7 linked regions of the Homo sapiens genome follow. The protein of the gene in region 4 purifies or fractionates together with the protein of the main gene of each other region. This does not show direct contact. Each region holds a gene or a part of one and is shown on either strand. Other genes may lie near its edges.

Region 1 (3,500 bases), on a different chromosome or scaffold from region 4:
TCTGCCTATTTAGGGAATCTGGTTCTAGCTGTAGATAAATTGATTTTATGGTATCTTAATTTTTCTATTATTTTGAATCCTAACATTTTTTAAGTCAAAAAGATTAAAAAATATGTATCTAACTTCTCAAACTTCTTTGGTCTCATACTTCTGTGTTAGCTTCTTCTTTGGATATAAAGGACTGTCAGTGTACCATGTCAGTGATTCATCTTTTTGGTACATTTTACTCCCTTGAGCATCTGAAGCCTATAAATACTTAATATTTACCCCAGCTTTGTTTTACCTTTCTATGAGATTAGAGGAGCTGACAGAAAATACAAATATTTCTTTTTTTCAACATTGAATTATGATTGAATTAGACTTGTTTATAGGTAAGCCAGAATAAGTTGTGTAATCTTAAAATATGCTAATTTATTTAAAATTAATATATCTTAAGACTAAATGAAGAAATACTTTCTCTACTAATTAAAATATCTTTTTATGGCTGAAATTAGTATACAACCCTTTTGCATTATCCATTGCTTCCATTCAAGTTTAAACATTGTTTTTCTTTAGAAAAAGTACAGGTAATAAACCTACAGTAATCCTTATTGTGAAGAAAGTTAATATCTTGATTTATGTTTCACAGAAACTAGCATTAAAACAATGCTTTCTTAAACTTTCATATCACAGTCACTGAAATTATTTGTGTTAGTGTTTTATCTGTGACTTGGGCTTATTCTACTGGATCTAGCTTTGTATAGAGTGGGAGAGTTGGATTGAGATTGGTATGTGTTTTGAGTCCTGATCAACAAGATCATTTGTATTTTAGCCAAAATATATAGAGAATGAATGTAAATAAAATATAACTCAATTTCAACACTTATTAATTGATCATCTATAATTTAAGATACTAGGTCCTGGGGATGCGGCAGTGAAAAAAAAAATTCTTGCCTGCATGGAACTTAGCTTCTTGTGGGGTTGGGACCCAGAAAATAAACAGGATAAATAAGTAGAATATATAGTATATTAAATGTGACAAATGCTTTCAAGAAAAATAAAGCAATGGAAGGGGTTCCGGAAATAATGGGTTGTTGAGAGTAGGGGGATGGCAAGATTAAAATGTTAAATAGCATGTCAAAGGAAGGTTTCATTGAGGAAGTGACATTTGAGTACAGATCTGAAGAGGTTAAGGAATAAACTGTGTATATTCTAGAGGGAAGACTGTTCCAGAGAGAAGGAGTCTTTTCCTTTTCCAGGGTCCCTTTTCAGATGGCTAAGTTTGTTGGAACATTTACGATTGGGTAGGTATTACTGTAGATTTACTCAGGCTTTCTGCCTTGACAGAATGTCCAGCAAGGAAGTGAAGACTGCTCTAAAAAGTGCTAGAGATGCAATCAGAAACAAAGAATACAAAGAAGCTTTGAAACACTGTAAGGTAACCAGTATTTTTTTCTTCCACAATGAAAGTATGTTACCCATTTATAAACATTGTTGATTTGTAATATGTGAATTATTTCCTGTCCAAACAGCAAAAGTGGTAAGGCCATTTAGTAGAACCATTAGAATGGTTGGACTTTTAACCTCTAGTTAGCAGGATAAACTACCTCTGCCAAACTTAACTTTCTCTGTATTGGTAACTTAACAAAACCAAGTTCTTAAAACCTGAATATCCCATAAATATCTTTTGATGGTTGTATCGTGGAATGCTACTGTATCTTAAAGTTTTCATTGTTTAATGGCATGTTAGTGTTCTATTTCTATTTGGTTTGTGGATGAGAGGACCAAGATTATAAAGCTTATTTTTATGCTGATGGGTATGATTCCATTCAGAGGGAGAAATTGGACTCGGGGGAGAGACAGAGGGTAGTGGTAGGAGTGAAGTCATCAGTAGGTGAGAGACACACTGGGATCCAGAGCTTGAGGGAGCCCTTTAATCCTTCTTCCATCTTAGCAGGAGAGAAGATAGGTGCCCATCCATACAGTGTTGGGCTTATAGATTTGGTGTTGGGAAAAGCTTTCTTCTCTAATGGCTTCTATTTTCTTGGCAAAGTATAAGATGAGACTGGGAGAAGACTTGGTTATTGGTTAGGAGGTTTGAGATAGCAGAAGGTATGAAATAGTTTCTTTCTTTGTTTTTTTTTTTGTTTTTTTTTTTTCTCATGGTGGGAAAAGAAACTTGCTAGTAAGGATTGGAAAGATTAGCAGGCCCTAGTGATTGCCCATTTGAAGTTTCAAGCTATTAAAGTGAAATTAGTGAACTCCGCTGTAGTTTTTCTCTTTGTATTCAGTTTCTCAGGTTTGGAGATGGGCATGATGGGGTTCAAGTATGGATGGAGAGAAAGAAGAAAGGAAAGACATGCAAAGGAAAGACATGACAAGGGAGTGATGACAGTGGTGAGCCCTGGAGTCTAAGCTGGGTAAAGAGGAATGAGAAATGAGAGGTGGGCTGATAGGCAATGGAAAAAGCGTTTAGGATAGAAAAAATTAGAGAAACCAAAGGTTAAAGATTTGTTACCATGGGACCACTACAGTAATTGAACTGGGACGGTTAGAGAGGAGCAGAATAGTACTGTGCTGGAAATTCAGATTTTGGATGGGTGAGTAGTGTGGTGGTCACATAACTGAGAGGCCAGAGTGTTCAACGGGATATCAACATGAATACAGGCACTGAGGTGGAAAAGAAGGATACAGAATTTTCACTGAAGGAAAGGGGAATTAGGAAGGTGGTAGACTGTAGCAACAAGAAGGCTATTTTTAGTAGTATAGTTGGATGGCCTGAGCTTCAAAGGTAGTGGGGTTGCTGAAGGAGGAAGGAGCAGTAGAGGACTGTAGGTGACAGACAGTGTGAGCAAGAAGCAGTTTCTCACCTTCTAGGCCTGTGGCATGTGAGCTGTAAAAGAAGTCATCTGCAATCTGTAGGATGTATAGGGGAATTAGCCATGTTTTCATTGAGGCAGAACTTGGTGTGGTTAAAAGAAAGGTTAAAAATATGGAAGGAACTTGGCTGACCCAGATTGGGAGTTCCAGAGGGCACAATGAAGAATTTAGGAGAGTGGTAGGGAGGGAATTGGGCAAGACTGGGCAGTATACATGGCAATATGAGGATGAGTCTAAGGAGTAAACAGGTAAAGGATACCCTTGTGAGGTTTAGGTTTCTGGTGGTGACTGATGGAGCCCAGCAGGGATGCAAGGACGTGATAGTATTAATCTTGATATAGAAGAAGGTGGGCAGTGTGTTCCAAGTGGGGACAGGTTGTGGATGGAATACAAGAAGGGAAGAAGGACTGTTTCCTTCAGCACTAGGTTTATCTAATTGATGCACGTTTCAGTTATATACAGCACCACCATAGCTGTCTTCTTCCTGTAGACTTTCTGCAAAATTCAGATATTAATTCCACCAAATAGTTAATAATTTATACTAGAGAGACCCAATTAGAAAATGCAAATGGATAGCTAATCAGTTATAAATGCCTGATTACTAATGTGTAGTAACCCAGAATATTGGTTGAGACTAAATG
Region 2 (3,969 bases), on a different chromosome or scaffold from region 4:
ACAAAGACAACAAAAACGTATGCGTTTCTTACAGCTTTATGATGTGTTTCAGTGTCTACAGTACTGCTGAGTTTGCATCTCTTGCATGTTGTATCTTTCTGGTAACATATGGAAGAAGCTTCATATTCATATAAGTATGCTAGTTCTAAAACATAATGTGGAATCATTTACAACTCAGCACTACTTGGTAGCAATAAACAGAAACCCACCTCAAAAGAGTGTAAGCAAAAAAGGAATTGAATTAGATTACGTAATTTGAGAAGTCCAAAGGCTGGAGTTGGTTTAAGCGAAATTTGTATTGAAAATTTTTCTTACATAAAAAAGGTAAAACAAATTTGGTAAACCTAATTTTTTTTTATAGTGCAAGTAGTCAACTGTTGTCATTCTAAGAAACTATTATTTATGGATAGTAAAACTGTTTGGAGACTTTAAAAATACCCTATAACAGTTAAAGGCAGAGCAAATTACTGAAATAAAATTGCGATATTTGCCCCAAATAGTAACAGTACAATTTTCATCAGTTCTCTAGAAAATTATCTGCAATTAAAAAAAAAAGAATTCTGATGTGTTAACTCAAATTAATCAGTATTTTCTTTGTACACTCAGATTGCAACCTAAGTATTAGTCTGTTGAATTTGGTTTAGTGGATATTTATTCAGGATTTTTACAAAAACAAGGAAACAGAGAAGAGGAATAGTGCTGTGCAGATGACCTCGGGGTTCAGGCGACACTCAAATGCCTGCTTCTCCTCTGAGGTTATTACCATCTCTTACTTGTTTGACGTTTAGAGATACTACAAGAGATAGTTGAAAAGCAGAGGTTGCATTTCCAGTGGTGTTTTGCTCTGCTGGTATTTGCTCCTCCGTGCTGCTGTGCAAAGGGCCAGAACTGCATCGAATGGATCTTTTCTTCAGGTTGTGCAGGCTGGCTGCCTTGATGTCGTAGTTGCTGATGTTGGCTGCCGACGAACCTTATTCCTTTACATTTGCCTGGTCCTCATTTCACCGGAAAACACAGTAGCTGTAGCTGCACATAGACGCTTCCTCTTTCTGTTTCCCCCTCATCCCCCTCCCTAGACCTCTCTGGGCTTTGACGTCATGTGTGCTCCTTTCGGTTGCCATAGCAACCCCATTCCCCAAGCCCTCTGTCCGTCTCCTCTGGTAGGTTCCACAATGGTACAGGCAGCATCACGCTGCACAATGGTTTCCAGGCAGTGAAAGAGGGTGATTCAGCAAGCCACTCTTCTTCTATTTTCTTTAACCTCCCCTTCACTTTTTATTTTTATGGGGGTGGGTGGTGCTTGCTATATGCTTACCTTTTTCTTTTCTTTTTTCATTTTTACAAATTTCCTTTTTTGTCCTCACCCCTCAATTCCTAGGGGCTTGAGTGAGTTTAAGATTGGGTTTTCTTGGAAATCACCTGTCCATCGTTAATTTTAAACAATCTCCATATCTCCAAAGAATCTCTTCCATGTTAGTCTGGAATGTGGTTAATGAAAAACAAGTAGGGAGGATTTCTGGGGCAAACACTGCCGGATCAGGATCGTAGTTCTCAGGCACGGAATGGTAGGTGGCTCTTTGCTCGTTCTGGGTTCTAACCTGTTTTTGGAGGGTGGGGTGATGTCTATTGATTGCTCCTGGTGGGGCGGGAGAGGGAGTATGGAAGAGACGAGAGAGGTGGGGTGGAAAGCAGGTTAATCAAGTGAACTAGCTTTGAAGCAAGAAGCTACCAGTTTTTCCCTCTGTGCAGAACATCTCTTTCCAGACTTGGGCGTGTTGAAACCTTTCCATTTGGAGTGAGGGGTAGCAGAGGGAGGGAGGGAGCATTCTTATTGTGACCAGGGGTTTTTAGACCAATGCAGGGCTACAGAAGGGAAGGGAGAGAGAGAGAAACACACACACACACACACACACACACACACACACACACACACAGAGAGAGAGAGAGAGAGAGAGAGAGGAAAAAAAAAACACCAAACAGCTGTGCTTGTTAGAAGTGCTGACCTTAGTTCCATATCTGAAAAATGTGATGGGTTCCATAAAACATTAAAAATAATGTCTTTTAGTATGTATTTATGTTTACTTTTGTGAGAAGTATAATTTAAATATTTTAAGATGTATTTTACTAAGGAACAGTATTTATATATATATTAGATATAAAACTATTGGCGTTACTCTTGCAGAGCAACTCTAGGCTAAATCTGAGCCGGGGAGAGGAACACAGAACAGGGGTCAGGTTAGAGATAAGAGGAAACATTGGCACTGCAGTCAAATAGGTAAGGGGTCCCTTTAAGAAAGTGATCTCCTAGTCACAGCAGTCAGCTTTCTTTTTTTCATGGCAAGATTCCCAGGTATTCTGTGCTGGGATACTGTGTCCCCTGCAAATGTCAGAGCTCTTTTGAAAAAAAAATCAGAAATAAGTATGGCAGTATATTTGTTAGAATCTATGTATTTGTGCCTTCAACAAAATAAATGTAATTTACTGGAAAATCTGTAAGTAAATCAGGCTATAGATATTACAAGAAAACTATCTATCCATATATTTTTCTCACCCTCCCCAAACATTTAAATCTAGAGACCTAGTCTCTGCTTTTACCCCCTTAAACAGATAACTTCCCAGGGTACTGCAATTTAGCCACAGAAAAAGAATGGCTTATGCCACAGCAGTAGGCTCTGAAGCAATCACAAGGTTGTTTACATGGGCTGCCTTTGGTGCAGAGCCTGACAGTGTCTGTACAGCAGCCCTGCCTGCTTCTGGCCATGTTGATGATAACTTTTATGAACAAACTGCAAGGAAGCAGGCTAAGTCATATGGGATAGACTACAGTTCAGGTGGAAGGAAAACGAGTGTAAGTGCACCAGGCATTGCCAGCACAACATCCAATATCTCCTTCTATCCCTCATCGGCTAGTTGTCGGACCCTGGAAGATAACACAGAATGCTTATCAACATATTTAAAATAGTTGCAGTAAGGACCATTTCTCTCAGAGAAGCTTCTGTGAATTTTCTACTTTAGGTGAGCATATATGTTACAAATATATAACAAATAAATATATAAGTATATCACAAGCTTCTGACTCCACTTCAGAACCATTAGATTTTAGGGGCTGGATGCTTTGGATGTAGCGGTTTGGCTGCCTCTGGTATGTATTTCCTTCTCTACCTTGATCACACTCTTAAAATTGACATAAAGTATTGGATTAGCTTATTTTCTTATGTGGAGCAAACTGGGTTTTCTCTCCCCTACAATGGGACTAGAAAATCAGATGACAAAGGTGGTGTGACCTTAAATATTAGAGAGTCTTCATGCTTCCTCATTTGCCTGTCATTCCTCTGCTGTTGCAAAGTGTCTTTAATTTGAGGGGCTCCTGTTCTTAAAAAATCCTCACAGTTTCAGTAAAACGATTCTGGATAGTGAGGCAGTAAGAAATTATATGTAGAGTGGGAAAATCAGCTGCCTCCAGCTTCCTGCCTGCTAGCCCCAGAACAGCATCTGCTGTTGAGAGGAGTGTGTTTGCCATGCTGGAAGGGGATGTTTATGAACAGATCCCAGAGGGGCTGAGTGTGTTTTTGCTGTCATTGTCTGGTATGTCTGCAGCTATTAGTATTTAATGGTTTCATAGTACATGGTCTATATATTCTAAGGTTAGAATGAACTGATAATTTATTGTCAATGCTATAAAATGTAGATATTTTAAATTTATAGGAAAATTAATAAGATTTTCCTTGTTAGGATATCCTACAGGAACATCATAAGCAAAACAAATTTGCCCAACCTAAGTAATCTAGAAAAACCTCCCATGTTTAAAGGCATAAATATATTTTTAAGGTTTTATTGTGGTTTCATGTAAATGAATCTGTTTCTTTGGATGTAAGCCTAGTTATAAATTCTTTTTATACTGATACTAAAAGCTAAAGACAAATTGGGTATTTACTTGTTTGTTAAATATGGGGATAGATGTTCTCCCTT
Region 3 (3,500 bases), on a different chromosome or scaffold from region 4:
GTGTATATATATATATATATATACACACATACATATATATACACTTATATATACATACATATATATACACACACACGCACACATATATATGTATTTTAAACTTAAAAAGCCTGTGCTTTATTTTATTCTACCATGTTTTCATTCTGTAACGTTTACTTACATATGACTTTATTTTTGTTTCTATTTTTCCATAAGTTATTGGGGTACAGGTAGTATTTAGTTGCACGAATATGTCCTTTAGTGGTGATTTGTGAGATTTTGGTGCATCCATCACCTGAGCAGTGTCCACTGCACCATATTTGTAGTCCTTTATCCCTCACCTCCTCCCACTCTTTCCTCCAAGTCCCCAAAGTCCATTATATCATTCTTATGCCTTTGTGTCCTCATAGCTTAGCTCCCACATATCAGTGAGAACATACAGTGTTTGCTTTTCCATTCCTGAATTACATCACTTAGAATAATAAGTCTCCAGTCACATCCAGGTCACTACAAATGCTGTTAATTCATTCATTTTTATGGCCGCATAGTATTCCATTATATATATGGTGATATATATATTATATGTATCACAGTTATATATATATATCACCATATATATATAACAGTTTCTTTATCCACTTGTTGATTGAAGGGCATTTGGGTTGGTTCCACGATTTTTCAGTTGTGAATTGTGCTGCTATTAACATGCATGTACAAGTATCTTTTTCGAATAATGACTTCCTTTCCTCTGGGTAGATACCCAGTAGTGGTATTGCTGGATCAAATGGTAGTTCTACTTTTACAGCCACTATGGAAAACAGTGTGGAGATTCCTTAAAGGATTATGCAATTTGAAACAGCTTCATTTGTTTACACGTTTTCATAAGGATACCTGTGAGACTTATTCCCAAGTCTGCAATGGGTAATTTTATTGCATATCTGAAGTTAGACATTTATATCATATATTTTATCTTAGTTTTTCAGGCTTTTTATTTTTAAATACAGCTTTCTTGTTTTGTAAACTATGGTTTATTATATAGTTATTCATTCATTTTCCTATTGTGCTTTCTACAGCGATTTGTAGAAATAGTTGTGGAGATGGATTTTGTTCCCGTCCTAACATGTGTACTTGTTCCAGTGGGCAAATATCATCAACCTGTGGATCAAAATCAAGTATGTTTCTTACTTGTGGCCTTTTCACTGCATTTTTCTTAAGCTTTGGAGCAAATGCTAAAGGTCCTTCTATGTGCCAGGGAGTTTTAACTGTTATTACTTTAGTTAATCCTTACATCAACATTATGAGATACTGTTAATACCCCATTTTACAGAATAGCAAAGTAAAGCACACATAATTTAATTAACTGGCCCAAGGAAACACAGACTTGAATCCAGGTATTCTGATGCCTAAGTGTATAGTCTCAAACACTAGACTGTATTTGTTGCCTTTGCTTAACATGTGTTTTGTGGGTTATCTAAGGGGGAAGGAGAGGAGAACTCCAAAGGCAGCATGTGTTTATTGAGTACTGACCACATACTTTACACATAATGGACCTATTTTGCTTCACATGTATTAACTGCCAACAACTTCATAAGATAATTATAACTGTGGACTATGATTGTGTGATTCATGACCCAATTAGAAATTGTTGGGTCCTTAAGGTCGAAGATTAATCTTTGAGGCTAGTATTTAAGATAACATTATAACAAGGCAGAAGCAAGATTGTTTATTTAATTGCTCAATAATTAAATAAATGCTTTCTTAAGTCTTGCCTCAAACTAGTGTGAAGTCATTATATTTTTAATACATCTTTCTTCAAATTTTCCCTAAAAGAAGGTAATATAGTATGTCTGACTCAGGAATAAGATTCAGGATTCATACATCAAATGCCATTGTCTTCTGATGAAACTCCTGATGAAAACTCTCTTAATTTCACTTCCTTTGAATCTGCCATTTCCTCAGCTTTTAAAACCTACCATTCAAATTCATCAAGATTTCTTGACCACTTTAACCAGAACATTTCATCCCCAACTTAACCTGAACCTCTCTTTCTTGCCTGATTACCTACAAGATACTGTTGCCAGTATGTTCATTATCCTGTTCCTAGTTTTCTCATATTTGCCTTTGGCAAAAAACACAATGCTGGAGGAATTTTAAGATTCAGTTTCTTAATTCCTCTACCTGGGAGCTGGGACATTCTCTGGTCCACTCTTTGCTTGTGGTATATAATTTAGCAGGGAATCTGTGCATTCATTTGGCCTTGGGCAATCCTTCCATTTCATCAGGAACTTTTCTAACCCTCCCAATCATCATCCTGTTTGACCTTGCTAAAGCTTTTGGCACTATTAATCATTATCTTCTTGAAATGTTGTTTTTCATTTTCTTTGAAACACCCTTGACTTTTAAAATGCCAGTGGCCTTCAGTGCTCCTTTTCTTGATCATTCCTTTTTAGTCTCTTTTCTATGTCTTCATCAGTCTTTCATTCAAGGTTTGGTATTCCTGAGTTCTGCCCTCCCTGGGTGAACTCATGTTTTCAATGACTACCAATCTGTTGATAACTCATAATATTTATCTACACTGGAGATCCCACCACTGACCTCCACACTCATATATTCCCTTTCCCATTTGACATCTCCACTCAAGAAATAGCAAGCAATTGAAACTTAGTAGCATGTCTAAAAGGAAACTGAATTTATTGCTGACCACAGGCTACTTGAACCACACAGTTCCTCCTGCCTTGGCAAATGGCTCTGCCATCCACCCAGTGCTTAAGTAACTGCTGCTTCTCTTTCTCTATGTCGGCTCTTTAAACAAGTCCTGTAGGCTTTACTGGAAAATAATTATCTCAGATTTATCTTTTCCTTTCCATCTCCACTGCTACCATGTGGTGTAAGCTATCCTCATCCTTCTCCCAGACTCTCGCCCTCTTCAAATCCGTTCTCTGCAGAGCAGCTAGAGTAATCTTTTTAAAATATAGATTACATCACTTCACTTTCTCATTTAAATCCTTTCAATGACTCCCTGTTGCATTTGGGATATAATGAAAACCCTTCGGTGGCCGAGGAGGCCCTGTGTTAGCTGGCTGGTCTCTGCCTGGGTTTCCAAGGTCTCTTCCCTGTCTGCCTCTTTTTAACCACAGGAATCTCTCCATTCTTCAGAAGAAACCTTTTACCATCCTAAGGTCTTTTGATTTGCTGGTTCTTCTCTCTCTGAAGTTTCTCCGTGGTACTTTTAATATCTGGCTTATTCAGTGTAAATGTCACCTCAGAGTGGTCTTGTCTAGTGCCAGTATCTAAGCTCCTTCTTGGCTCCAGACTAGTCTCCTTCACAACAGTTTACTTCAAACAGTTTATCACAGTCTATAATTACTTAGTGGTATTTGTTTACCTGTGTTTTCCGTAGCTCCCCATCGGAATTCAAGCTCTGTGAGGATAGCTTTCAAGTCCATTATGACAGTACTGCACTGAGCTGGAATGGTGGGCACTCACCTCCTGCATTCTGAATGGAGACAAAAGTGCCTCCT
Region 4 (3,166 bases):
TTCCTGAATCAAGTGTGTGTAGTGGAACCGGTGGTCCAGCCAGGCACTCAGAAGCTCATTCTCTCACCACCATGCTTTCTGGTCTTGACTTGGAGCTAAATACCGTGTGCTGAAGGGAAAAAGTTGAAAAAGAGAGATGCTTACTTTTCTTGAAATACTGTTGACTATGAGAAGTAAACTTCATCTGTAAATTTTTAAGATGAAAATTTACATCAGGTTTTTTTTCCTTGGTCCACTGGTGGGTAGCCAGTAGATGTAGTTTAGGTGAAATCACTACTCTCTCTACCCCTTCTCCTTCCCTACCTGTTTATCTAATTGGTGTTCCTTCAAGGAAGCTTTCTTAGGGATGTGTTAGAGTCTAGAAATGTCATTAAGAATCTGTTCAGGTAGTGCCCACATGCTATTGTCCTGAGCTTTTAATATATTTGAAAACTTAGCAAGTCTTCCTCTTTCAATTGCTCTGGATTTTGAGCCATTGCTGGGATTCCTCCATCTTCTGCATTATTGCCACACTGGAATGTCATACATGGAAGCAAACGGGATTGAATGCTTGAGAGGTGACACCCTCGGCCTGTATACTACTAGCCTTTAGTTAACTTTGCAACAACTGGATTTTCTGGGGAGAAGCTGAACATAGTATCTTCCTAGTTAAGCTTTATTCCTTTAACCTTAATCAGGGTTTAGTAAGACTAAAACTCTTATCCATTTAATGCCCGTTCCTGTACAGAGCAATTCTATAGAATAAAGAAAGTGTTTTTTCTCTATTACAAGTGAGAGAGTTGTTACTAGCACTAGGTTTGTTAAGTCACACAACCGAAAATTGGAATTAACATCCTTAATCCAAAGAGGAACTGCATATATATATATATACACACACACACACACACATACACACACATACATATACATATATATGTGTGAGTGTATATTTTCATGTGTGTGTATAATTTTTCCCCTTCCTCTCTCCTTTTCCTTCATTCTTTTTTTTTCTTTCAGTAGTGTAATTCCAGAAAAAAAGAGAACAAGACATTTGAGAGAAGGTTCAGTGACTGTTAGAGTCGACTTGATCAGTAGCTTGTTCAACGTGAAAGTTAACTGTGTTATAGGTCTGGCTTCCGGCCACTGCTGTCACCTGTGCAGCAAACTGTTCCTATGAGCAATTCTTTCATTTAATCTTCTCTTTAAATGTAGATGTATAGCTTCTTGTTCGTGCTGATATCAACTTTAGCCAGTTCTGGAAGTTGTGACATAAGTATACGTAATGAACTAGTGGATTATACTTGGCTTTAAAACTGTTTTAATTCATTATTTCTATACAAAATAAGGCATTGCAAAGTTGAGATGAAAGTTTCTCTCTCCGTGCCTCTCTCTTCCATCTTCCCTTCATCTCTTGTCTTTCTCCCTTTTTTCAGAGGAAGCTCACCAGTGTGGGAAGGGGCTTCTCATCCACTGCCAGGCTGGGGTGTCCCGCTCCGCCACCATCGTCATCGCTTACTTGATGAAGCACACTCGGATGACCATGACTGATGCTTATAAATTTGTCAAAGGCAAACGACCAATTATCTCCCCAAACCTTAACTTCATGGGGCAGTTGCTAGAGTTCGAGGAAGACCTAAACAACGGTGTGACACCGAGAATCCTTACACCAAAGCTGATGGGCGTGGAGACGGTTGTGTGACAATGGTCTGGATGGAAAGGATTGCTGCTCTCCATTAGGAGACAATGAGGAAGGAGGATGGATTCTGGTTTTTTTTCTTTCTTTTTTTTTTTGTAGTTGGGAGTAAGTTTGTGAATGGAAACAAACTTGTTTAAACACTTTATTTTTAACAAGTGTAAGAAGACTATAACTTTTGATGCCATTGAGATTCACCTCCCACAAACTGACAAATTAAGGAGGTTAAAGAAGTAATTTTTTTAAGCCAACAATAAAAATATAATACAACTTGTTTCTCCCCCTTTTCCTTTTAAGCTATTTGTAGAGTTTATGACTAAATAGTCTGTGCAGGTTCATAGACCGAAGATACTACACACTTTAAACCAATTAAAAAGAACCAAAAGTAAATAGAAAAGACATTGAATCACCAAGGCCTGGGATCAACCTGGGCTGTCCACACAGAAAACAAAAACCCAACCAAACCAAGCCCTGTTGTGCTCACTGGTGCAAAGAGAAGATCAGGGCAGCTTAAGTGGTCTAAGAATCCTTCAGGCATTCTTTAAGGAGAAAAAGGATACCTTTGATTTTGTGTGTTTCATGCTCTGGATTTTTTTTTTTTTTCCTTCTCTGGGTTTAAGAGATTTTTTTTGAAATAGTGAGGAACTGACCATTATATGCCTTCACTGGCTTCTTGTGCAATAATATGATGTTTTAAGTGTGCAAACAAGTTAGAGCTGGCAGCTGAATGATAGACAAATAGTGCAAATTTGCCAGCTTGGAGATAGAAAGGAATTCAACAATATATCAAATACTTTCCTTCCCACCTTTTTCCTTTTTTTTTTTTTTTTCTGATTTGATTCTGGTTACAGTGCCATAAACCTTGTTACATATGTATATCAGAATGTAAGAAAAAAAAATTTATTTAAAAATATTTTTCGCAAAAAAAAAAAAAATCTTGGTGTGTTTCTGTTGATTGTGTAAAAATTTATTTTCATTATATAAATGAAACTGGTTTAGGATGTGTCTTTTTTTCCCCTCTCTTTTACCTTAACTCAGGTTCAAGCCTTTCTTAAGCTCTGGTAACTTGCATATACAACAAAGTTGAAATAAAACAGATTTTTATATAGGGAAAGAGAGATGAGGAAGGGAACATATCCAGTTTTCTCACTGTGAAACAGAGTTAGCAAGGAAGTGGAAGAGCTCCAGTATTGATCTGCCCAGTCACTGTCCCTTATATTCTCACAATGCTGTCATCCTCTCCTGCAAATATCATTCCTTTTGCATCGGGGAAGGCTTGCATTAAGGGGATCCCATCTGCCTTTGCGCCTTGGTGACCAAATCCCTGCCAGATTGATTGGTGAGAATTCAGTGATCTCCCTAGTGGCTATTTGATAAATACTTAGGACAATCTTCCATTTAGGGATCTTGATGTTCCTCCCCCCACCCCCCCACCCCATTGTCACTTGCTCACTTGGCATCTTTGGTGACATTAACCATGTAATGCGTTGCAGC
Region 5 (2,980 bases), on a different chromosome or scaffold from region 4:
AAGCCTTTCTCCTTCAGTAGTCTATTTTCTTAGAATAACAACTCTTTTATCTATTCTGAACTCTATTTTTTTTCTTTTTTAAGAGACAAGGTTTTGCTCTGTTGCCCAGCTTGGACTCGAACTTTCCTGGGCTCAAGCGACCCTCCTGCCTCAGCCCCCCAAGTAGCTGGGACTAAAGTCATGTGCCACCACACCCAGCTTACTCTGAACTTTTATGACAGATGATTGTTTTTTGTTTTTAATGTAGAAATGAGACAAGGGTACAAATTGGAACTAGAAATTGACATTGTCATTGACAAACATGGCTAAAAACAAAACATCAAATCCTGCCCCCGTGAAGAGTTCCCTGTCACCTCAAGTTTGAGGATAGTCCTCTAAGAGTGACCTAAGCATAAGTGAAAGACACCTCCCCTCACCCTTCTAGCCCCCTACAAGGTGCCAGGTTGGGGTAAAGAGTTGGAGATGATGGCCAGGAGTGGCCTCCAACACGCTGGTGAGAGGCCTGATTAGGTTTTGGGGAAGATCTGAGAGCTCTGGCCTCTTCGTGAGTGGAACATAAAGCCGCCTCTTGTTGGGAGATCCTACCCCAGTGACAGAGGAATCCCCCAAACTAGGCTGTGCCCTGGCTCCGTGGCGGCTCCAGACCCGGGTAGTGCCTTTGTCCCCTGAATACTCACTCCCCCGGTCCAGAGGGCCTTCCCACTGCCCAGCCTGGAGAAGGCCTCCCCTGACCTGCTCTCTCAGTATCCTGGAGAGCTGGCCAGAGGCCATCACAGGCATCATCCTCAGAGCTCCTCAGACCTGGGACTTTGTTTTTGCTGGTTCAGTGCATTTTGTGTATTTAAGAGCAAACACTAGCCAGGCGTGGCGGCGTGTGCCTGTAGTCCCAGCTACTTGGGAGGCTGAGGCAGGAGGATTGCTCGAACCTGGGAGGCGGAGGTTGCAGTGAGCCTAGATCACGCCATTGCACTCCAGCCTGGGTGACAGAGTGAGACTCCATCTCCAAAAAAAAAAGCACAAACACTGCACTGCCTGTGCTGAAATTAGTGACCACCCAGTGGGCTCCAGGCTCCGCTAGGTAACTTCGTTTTCCCAGCAGTGGAGTGGGCACCACCTTGGTGGGGCAGTGCCCCTGTGCCCAGGGCACACCTCATTCCCAGTTCTATAGCAATTCACCAAGAACAAAGTCTGCAGTTAGAGCCAAAGCTGGTGGTGGCCAGAGGGTGCTGAAGATACAGGCCAGTGGGGATGGGAGCCATGAGCCCCGAATGTCTTCTGCTCTGATGCTCCCCGGACTAAGCCTCCCTGGCACACTGGGAGTGAGGGGCAGCCTGAGCAAGTAGGGGAACTCAGACCACAGGCCAGCAGATTTCCCAGCAGTCCATCACTGGCCACCGTGTAGCCAGATTCTGTTCCGTCCACACTGGGGTGAAGAGTACTTGGAATGTCTGCCATCCTGTATGATCACCCCACCCCCTGTCCATCCATCAGTAGATAATAAGGGTTGGTTACAATTCATAAGAGAATAGTTAAAACACTTCTCCTCTCATGCCTACCATGGTGCTGTATCAAGGGGATTTGTTCACATATGGGCTCAGCAACGCACAAGTGAGGTCAGCCATGGCACTAGGTCATTCCCATTTTAGCCAAGGTGCCTCTATAGGGGTCAGACATCATGTGCCCAGACCTAAGGTCAGGAATGTCATATTTTTCTGTTAAAATCATTTTATTTCTGTGTATCTTACCTTTAAATCATTGTGGTTTACTCTGAGATTCTGTAGTCCTAATATTGTATCATTGTGCTGTCTGCAAAACAACTTGAATCTATTTTGTTTGCATCTTTTGTTACATGTAACGCAGCTGTACTTTATGTTCTTTGCAACTGTTTCCATTATGAGAACGCTGTGCTATTTACAAGGTTACATTTTTCTTGGCCAGGCGAGGTGGTCATGCCTGTAATCCCAGCACTTTGGGAGGCCAAGGTGGGCGGATCACTTGAGGTAAAGAGTTGAGACCAGCCTGGCTAGCATGGCGAAACCCAGTCTCTACTAAAAATACAAAAATTAGCCGGGTGAAATTAGCCGGGCGTGGTGGTGTGTGCTTGTAATCCCAGCTACTCGGGAGGCTGAGGCAGGAGAATCGCTTGAATCCGGGAGGCAGAGGTTGCAGTGAGCCAAGATCAGGCCACTGCACTCCAGCCTCGGGGTCAAGAGCGAAACTCTGTCTCAAACAAAAAGAAAGAAAGGAAGGAAGGAAGGAGGGAAGGAAGGAAGGAAAGAGAGAAAGAAAAGAAAGAAAGAAAGAAAGAAAGAGAAAGAAATATCTTTGCTATTTGTATAAAAATGGAAATTTTAACAGCTTAGCCTCTAGAGAGTTACTGAACGTGGTTACCTTGGGAATGTAAATAGAACTGCAAATTAAAATGACTGGCCACTTCAACTGGGTAAGGGAAACAGCTGCAATAAAGCTTCGTGAATATATATCTCCATCTTGAAAGTTGTGTTCCACAAAGGTTTCGACCTCTTTGTCCAAAAATGCATATTACTCATTTACTCCTTTCATACCTTCATTGTGAAATTAAATAACAGACTCACAAGCACCTGGCACTGGTGGCAGACAAAAAGGCCTCAACATTCTGCAGCAGGCCAGAGGAGGAACGACGCTGCTACAGTATTTATTAGTTCCAGTGCTCAAGCCCAGGTTTCTAAGGTTTGACAATATTCTGTAAGTTAAAATCATTTCCACACATACAGAGTAGAATCCTGTTTTTGTAAGTATACACACACACACACACACACATTCATGGAACATTGTCTGGAAGGATATACATGAAAATGTTAAGAGTTGGGGGGGGTTGAATTTTAGGCAATTTTAATTTTTTTAACGTCTTCTGGTTTTTCTACAATAAACATGAATCAGTTGTAGAACCTCTAAAATGATAATGTTCATGAGGTTGGTTTTCCTCGTTCAGTAGCTGGCG
Region 6 (3,500 bases), on a different chromosome or scaffold from region 4:
GCAAAAATTAGCCAGGCATGGTGGTGTGTCCTGTAATCCCAGCTTCTCAGGAGGCTGAGGCAGAAGAATGGCTTGAACCCAGGAGGCAGAGGTTGCAGTGAGCCGAGATAGCGCTGCTGCACTCCAGCCTGGGCAACAGAGCGAGGCTCTTGTCTCAAAAAAAAAATAAAGATAGAAAATGGTTAATTTGGCCGGGCATGGTGGCTCACACCTGTAATCCCAGCACTTTGGGAGGCCGAGGCGAGGTGTTCACGAAGTCAAGAGATCGAGACCATCCTGGCCAACCAACATGGTGAAACCCCATCTCTACTAAAAATACAAAAATTAGCTGGGCATAGTGGCGCATACCTGTAGTCCCAGCTACTCAGGAGGCTGAGGCAGGAGAATCGCTTGAACCCGGGAGGTGGACGTTGTAGTGAGCTGAGATCGCGCCACTGCACTCCAGCCTGGGCGACGAGCGAGACTCTGTCTCAGAAAAAAATGATAGAGAGAGAAAGAGAGAATGGTTGATTTAAAAAGCATGCAGTTTATATAGAATAAATAAAATTGTTAATTTATGTTATATCGATCTTACTTCAATGTAAAAAACCAAGGGCTCACTCCTGTAATCTAGCACTTTGGGAGCCTGAGGCAGAAGGACCACTTAAGCTCAGGAGTTCAAGACCAGCCTGGGCAACAAAATAAGACCTCGTCTGTACTAAAAAATAAAAAAGATTAACTGGGTGTGGTGGCGCTTGCCTATAATCCCAGCTACTCAGCAGGCTGAGTTGGGAGGATCGCTGGAGCCCAGGAGGTCAAAGCTGCAGTAACCAGAGATCACACCCCTGCACTCCTAGGTGATAGAGTGAGACCCTGTCTCAAAAATAATAATAATAAAAAAATAACCCCCAGGCCGGGCGCTGTGGCTTACGCCTGTAATCCTGGCACTTTGGGAGGCCGAGGCGAGCGGATCACCTGAGGTTGGGAGTTCAAGACCAGCCTGACCAGCATGGAGAAAACCCCGTCCCTACTAAAAATACAAAATTAGCTGGATGTAGCGGCACGCACCTGTAATCCTAGCTACTCGGGAGGCTGAGGCAGTCGAATCGCTTGAACCCAAGAGGCAGAGGTTGCGGTGAGCCAAGATCGCTCCATTGCACTTGAACCTGGGCAACAAGAGCAAAACTCCGTCTCAAAAAAGTAAATAAAAATAGGACCAGGCGCGGGGGCTCACGCCTGTAATCCCAGCACTTTGGGAGGCCGACGTGGGCAGATCGCGAGGTCAAGAGATCGAGCCCATCCTGGCTAACACGGTGAAACCCTGTCTCTACTTAAAAGAAAAAAATTATCCGGGCGTGGTGGTGGGCACCTGTAGTCCCAGCTACTCAGGAGGCTGAGGCAGGAGAATGGTGTGAACCCGGAAGGCAGAGCTTGCAGTGAGCTGAGATCGCGCCACTGCACTCCAGCCTGGGTGACAGAGCGAGACTCTGTCTCTAAATAAATAAATTAATAAATAAAACCCCCAAAATGCACAGCTATCATGGCTTAGTTGAGGGTGCAGGCTGGTCAGGCTGCTTTTCCAGTGCCAGGTGTGAGCTTTCTCTTCTCATTCTTTAAATTAGGGGTCGCTGTGATGAAATTCAAGAACCCCCCAGTGAACAGCCTGAGCCTGGAGTTTCTGACGGAGCTGGTCATCAGCCTGGAGAAGCTGGAGAATGACAAGAGCTTCCGCGGTGTCATTCTGACCTCGGTAGGTGCTAGTTCAGCTCCCTACCCCAGCCCGAGTTCTTGGCCTGAGTTCTCTGATGTGAGCCCAGGCCTGTTGCACATGGAAGAGGCAGAGCCTGCCAACGTGTGGCACAGGCCAGCCGGCAGCCCCACCACCCTGGACTCCAGGCGCCTTCACGGGAGGCTTCCAGGAGCACCGTCTGGGTGTGCCCCAGCAGGGACCCAAACTGCCATGGGCCTCAAGCAGATCATTCCCAAAGGTGAAGGTGGACCAGTCTCAGAGACAGCCTTCCCAGGAGACAGCTTTCCCAAGAGACGCCCTTCCCGGGAGACAGCCTTCCCAAGAGGCAGCCCTCCTGGGAGACCGCCTTCCTGGGAGACAGCCTTCCCTGCCCGGGCCGTCGTCCAGGCGGACACTGGGGAGAGCTGTGGGCAGCGAGTGAGGGAGAGCCATGCATCTATGGGGTCACCTTGGACCCTAAGCACACCTGGTGGTGGGTTCCTGGAGTGCTCCCCACTAGGATCACTTGGGTGCCCTGAGCCAGTCCTGCGAACAATACCCATGCTCTCTGATCCTCTGTGGGCCAGTCTTCAGGGCGAGTTCTCAAGGGTGAACCTCTTTGGTCTGAGTTCTTGTGCAGGGGACTCTAAATGTTGCCTGAGTGCTGGCGAACGCTAGGCGTGTCATCTGTGGGAACGGTGTCATTACCAACATCGCCGAGGGGCAGTAAGCAGTGTCAGGCCCAGGAGGATGGGACCCTTGAGGAGAAGCGGGCATTGGCTGAGGTGAGGGGAGTGAGGGGTCCTCGGAGGCTGGCGTGGCTTTACAGGGCCTGGCCTAGAACTCCTGACCTCAAGTGATCTGCCCACCTCGGCCTCCCAAAGTGCTGGCCACGTCCAGCCTTATATATTTATTGAGACAGAATCTCCCTCTCTTGCCCAGGCTGGAGTACAGTGACGTGATCTTGGCTTACTACAACCTCCGCCTCCTGGGTTCAAGCGATTCTTGAATCTTGAAAATTTTTAAAATTTTTGGGAGAGACAGTGCCTTTATTGCCCACGTTGGTCTTGAACTCCTGGGCTCAAGCACTCCTCCCACCTCGGCTCCCCAGTGTGCTAGGATTACAGGTGCGAGCCATTGCACCTGGTTAATTTTTTTGCTTAATTTTTACTTTTTTGTACAGGCGGGGTCTTGCTATGTTGCCCAGGCTGGTCTTGAACTCCTGGCCTCAAGCAGTTCTCCAATCTTGGCCTCCCAAAGCTCTGGGATTACAGGCATGAGCCACCACGCCAGGCCTGGGTTTTGAGTAACGGAAGTAGAACGCGTTTTGTAGAAACAAAGGACCGGCCTACCCATTCTGTGCGGCACCAGCTCACACCTGTTTGGGAACAGCGGAGCTGCGTTGCCCACCCGCACCGTTCCTGGCTTTTTCACATCGCCTGAGGATGTGGAGGCCATCCCATCTGTCCCAGCCGCCTCCTCCTCGCACACATTAGGTGGCTGTCGCCCTCCTTCCTGCAGACAGGGCGGGGTAAACATCCACCCAGCTCTGCTTGTGTGAGTCAGGGTGAGCTGGGTTCAGCTGCAGGAACAAGTTCACCCACAGCCTTGGGGGGTCTGGCCCTCGGGAGGAAAACGTGCCGTGTTGTGCAGAGGGGAAGGTACCCTTGTCATTTGCTCAGGGGGCTGTGACCATGCAGGGTCCCCAGGGTGGGTTCTCCACTCCTCCCCGAGCCCGCCTCCCTGGCCGGCAGCCCTGACTGGGAGTCTGAGGCTCCTGTGCTGGCGCCCG
Region 7 (3,126 bases), on a different chromosome or scaffold from region 4:
CACAGTCACCTCCCACCAGGTTTCTCCCATGACACATGGAAATTGTGGGAGTTACAATTCAAGGTGAGATTTGGGTGGAGATACAGCCAAACCATATAATGAGCAAAGCAAAAGAATATTTTGGTGAAACCTAAGCAAATCCAAGACTTAAACTTTTTTGTTTAACTTTTTTTTTTTTCCCCTGGGAGCATATATTCAAATTGCCCTGAATAAACACTTCCAAGACTTACACTTTTTAAAAATGGTAATTAAGAAGATCGTTATAAGATACTTAAGGTTTGAAAATGTTTTGAGGCCAGGAGCAGTGGCTCATACCTGTAATCCCAGCACTTTGGGAGGCCAAGGCAGGTAAATCGCTTGAGCCCAGGAATTTGAGACCAGCCTGGGCAACATGGCAAAACCCCATCTCTACAAAAAATACAAAAATTAGCCAGGTGTGGTGGTGCACACCTGTAGTCCCAGCTACTTGAGAGGCTGAGGCAGGAGGATTGCTTGAGCCTGGGTGGTTACAATGAGTTGAGATCCTGCCATTGGACTCCAGCCTGGGCAACAGAGTGAGACTTTGTGTCAAATTTAAAAAGAGAAAGAAAATGCTTTGAATTCATACAATATTATCAAATATGTCTGCAGGCAGGTCTGCTTTAATCATTACATTGCATCTGGGTTTTTTTCGTTGGGTGGGTTTGATGTTTTTTGGGGGGCAGGGAATGGCTAGGGCTCAGTCACAGATTATGTAATCCATTATGATATGCCCTACAGCTGCAGAGATAGAACGCTAAATAGTTTTATCATTTTGGCAAAATGAACATCCAGAATTCATCCTTTTATCACACTGACTGATCATTGCCAGTTAAATTGTTGATGTGTATCCAAAGCCTCCAATAAAATATTTGATTAGTGTGTTTTTTCATACTTTGCACTTGCGTACTCTAGGCAAAACTATGACATAGTTAAGTTCCAGTTTTCAAAACATTAAAGTTAAGGTTGCAGAATGGTAGCATGTGAGCCACTTCTAACTTTCAGGCAAGTTTAGTGTAGTGCTAAGACTAGAACATATTCCATTCAAATTTAAAACACATAGGTAGATAGCAGTAGCTTATGGTTATACATAAAGGATACACAAGAAAACAGTTTGGTTAAATAAGGTAGGATAAATATTTTCTCTTGTATCCTCTCAAAGCTTTGAATGTAGTACTAGGTGCACATATTAATATTTAAAAAGTAAGTAAAATAATGTGTTAAAAATGAGATAAGAATATGTACAATTTTTTTTTTTCTTTTTGAGACGGAGTTTCGCTCTTGTTGCCCAGGCTGGAGTGCAATGGCACGATCTTGGCTCACTGTAACCTCTGCCTCCCGTGTTCAAGTGATTCTCCTGCCTTAGCAGGAGAAGCTGGGATTATAGGCATGTGCCACCACGCCCGGCTAATTTTGTATTTTTAGTAGAGACGGGGTTTCTCCATGTTGGTCAGGCTGGTCTCCAACTCCCGACCTCAGGTGATCCGCCTGTCTCAGCCTCCCAAAGTGCTGGGATTACAGGCATGAGCTACCACGCCTGGCCTCAACTTTTTAGAATCTAGATGAAATGGATAATTTGATAGAAAATGTGAATTACCAAAATTGACCCAAGCCCAATGAAGTAGTTAAAGAATTATTCTAAAAAGAGGCATCTGGCCCAGACAGGCATATAGGCGAGTTCTACCAACACTTCAGAGAGCAGATAACTTTTATGACATAGAAACTGTTAAGGAAAAAATAATCCCAATGCATAAAAATATTAAAAATTAAAAGTTTTTCATATTTAAGGTGTTGGATATCCCAGTTACCCTGATTTGATCTTTATATGCTATTATGAATCACATGTACCCTGAAAATATGCACATCTTTTATGTATCAATAAAAGTAAAGATTTGTCAATAAGGCCATTAATGATTAAAGAAGCTTATAAAAACAACTGTCATACAGTGTAATTTTTAATTGTCTTATTTTCAGGTTCACCAGGCTGGTTTAACCTGCGATTATTCAGAACTTCCTCACCATATCAGCACAGAACAAGAAATAGAGTGTCTTATTCAATCTGTGCATTATTTGCTGAAAAATTTACCAAATCCTACTCTTGTGACAATTGCAAGGTAAGTGTGTTCAGCAGAATAATGGCAAATCAGAGATGTGCACATCCTAATCTCTGGAACCTGTGAATATGTTACATTATATGGCAAAAGGAAATTCGCAGTGTGATTAACTCAAGGATTTTGAGATGAGATTATCCTGGATTTATCAGGTGGGCCCAGTGTAATCACAAGGGTCATTAGAAGAGAAAGGCAGGAGGGTCAGAATCAGAGAGAGTGATTCGAAAATTCTACACTTCGGGCTTTGAAGGTGGAGGCCACAAGCTAAGGAACACAGGCAGCCTTTAGAAGCTAGAAAAGGCCAGGGGACAGATTATCCCTGGGATCTTACAAAAAGAATGCAGCCCTGTCAGCACCTTTATTTTAGGACTTCTGACCTCCAAAACTATATAATAAATTAGTGTTGCTTTAAGCTACTAAGTTTGTGGTGATTTTTTATAGCAGCAGTAGGAAACTAATACAATCTCTGTAGGTAAATAACCTGGTCACTAGAGCGTAAAATGAGTTTATCAGTGGTCTTACAGATTATCTCTTTAGGTTTGAAATACTTGTACTAAGGAGTAGGCCAGATAACTAATTCCAGTTCTTCTATAAAGATTTCTGTGCTGCTCTTCTCACTCTGTCCTCTAGAAGGCTTTATTCACCCTTATCCGGAACCAGGAGACACTGGTTAATCCAGTTGTAACTGGCAGCAGCATTGTAACTGCCCAGTGCAACTCAGGTTGCAGTTGGTAAGTTCTGGAAAGACTCCCAAAATACAGATATCTGCCCCAACCTACTTTGCTCTTTTCTGCTTCCTACTGCCTAGGAAAGTAAATCCAACACCAGCACATCGCCACATTTCATTTTGGACCAAGCCATGGATCCTTTATAATTTTGTAGTTAACAAATCATTTTTAGAAATAGGATCCTTTTATCAGTTGGAAAACCTCGACCCTCATCATTTCTAGCCCTAGCACACACATAATAAAAGATGTTCCATCGCTAAGATAATAAG

What was found.
Region 1: the proteins of DUSP10 (region 4) and SKIC3 purify together in Homo sapiens (affinity purification with mass spectrometry, with the first as the bait; one large-scale study listed by BioGRID). This does not show direct contact.
Region 2: the proteins of DUSP10 (region 4) and MAPK10 purify together in Homo sapiens (affinity purification with western blotting, with the first as the bait; one study listed by BioGRID). This does not show direct contact.
Region 3: the proteins of DUSP10 (region 4) and FBN2 purify together in Homo sapiens (affinity purification with mass spectrometry, with the first as the bait; one large-scale study listed by BioGRID). This does not show direct contact.
Region 5: the proteins of DUSP10 (region 4) and SAMHD1 purify together in Homo sapiens (affinity purification with mass spectrometry, with the first as the bait; one large-scale study listed by BioGRID). This does not show direct contact.
Region 6: the proteins of DUSP10 (region 4) and ECI1 purify together in Homo sapiens (affinity purification with mass spectrometry, with the first as the bait; one large-scale study listed by BioGRID). This does not show direct contact.
Region 7: the proteins of DUSP10 (region 4) and C5orf22 purify together in Homo sapiens (affinity purification with mass spectrometry, with the first as the bait; one large-scale study listed by BioGRID). This does not show direct contact.

The regions. Positions count from the first base shown.
Region 1 is NC_000005.10:95,544,978-95,548,477, reverse strand, and holds part of SKIC3 (superkiller complex protein 3), read left to right. Parts: intron 1-1,326; 5' UTR 1,327-1,327; coding exon 1,328-1,417; intron 1,418-3,500. UniProt on the Homo sapiens protein: Component of the SKI complex, a multiprotein complex that assists the RNA-degrading exosome during the mRNA decay and quality-control pathways.
Region 2 is NC_000004.12:86,357,254-86,361,222, reverse strand, and holds the start of MAPK10 (mitogen-activated protein kinase 10), read left to right. Parts: upstream 1-1,169; 5' UTR 1,170-1,565; intron 1,566-3,969. UniProt on the Homo sapiens protein: Serine/threonine-protein kinase involved in various processes such as neuronal proliferation, differentiation, migration and programmed cell death.
Region 3 is NC_000005.10:128,528,246-128,531,745, reverse strand, and holds part of FBN2 (fibrillin-2 precursor), read left to right. Parts: intron 1-1,052; coding exon 1,053-1,151; intron 1,152-3,500.
Region 4 is NC_000001.11:221,700,924-221,704,089, reverse strand, and holds the end of DUSP10 (dual specificity protein phosphatase 10), read left to right. Parts: intron 1-1,412; coding exon 1,413-1,678; 3' UTR 1,679-2,666; downstream 2,667-3,166. UniProt on the Homo sapiens protein: Protein phosphatase involved in the inactivation of MAP kinases. Has a specificity for the MAPK11/MAPK12/MAPK13/MAPK14 subfamily. It preferably dephosphorylates p38.
Region 5 is NC_000020.11:36,889,729-36,892,708, reverse strand, and holds the end of SAMHD1 (deoxynucleoside triphosphate triphosphohydrolase SAMHD1), read left to right. Parts: 3' UTR 1-2,480; downstream 2,481-2,980.
Region 6 is NC_000016.10:2,245,088-2,248,587, reverse strand, and holds part of ECI1 (enoyl-CoA delta isomerase 1, mitochondrial isoform 1 precursor), read left to right. Parts: intron 1-1,601; coding exon 1,602-1,729; intron 1,730-3,500. UniProt on the Homo sapiens protein: Key enzyme of fatty acid beta-oxidation. Able to isomerize both 3-cis (3Z) and 3-trans (3E) double bonds into the 2-trans (2E) form in a range of enoyl-CoA species, with a preference for (3Z)-enoyl-CoAs over (3E)-enoyl-CoAs.
Region 7 is NC_000005.10:31,549,301-31,552,426, forward strand, and holds part of C5orf22 (UPF0489 protein C5orf22), read left to right. Parts: intron 1-1,992; coding exon 1,993-2,132; intron 2,133-3,126.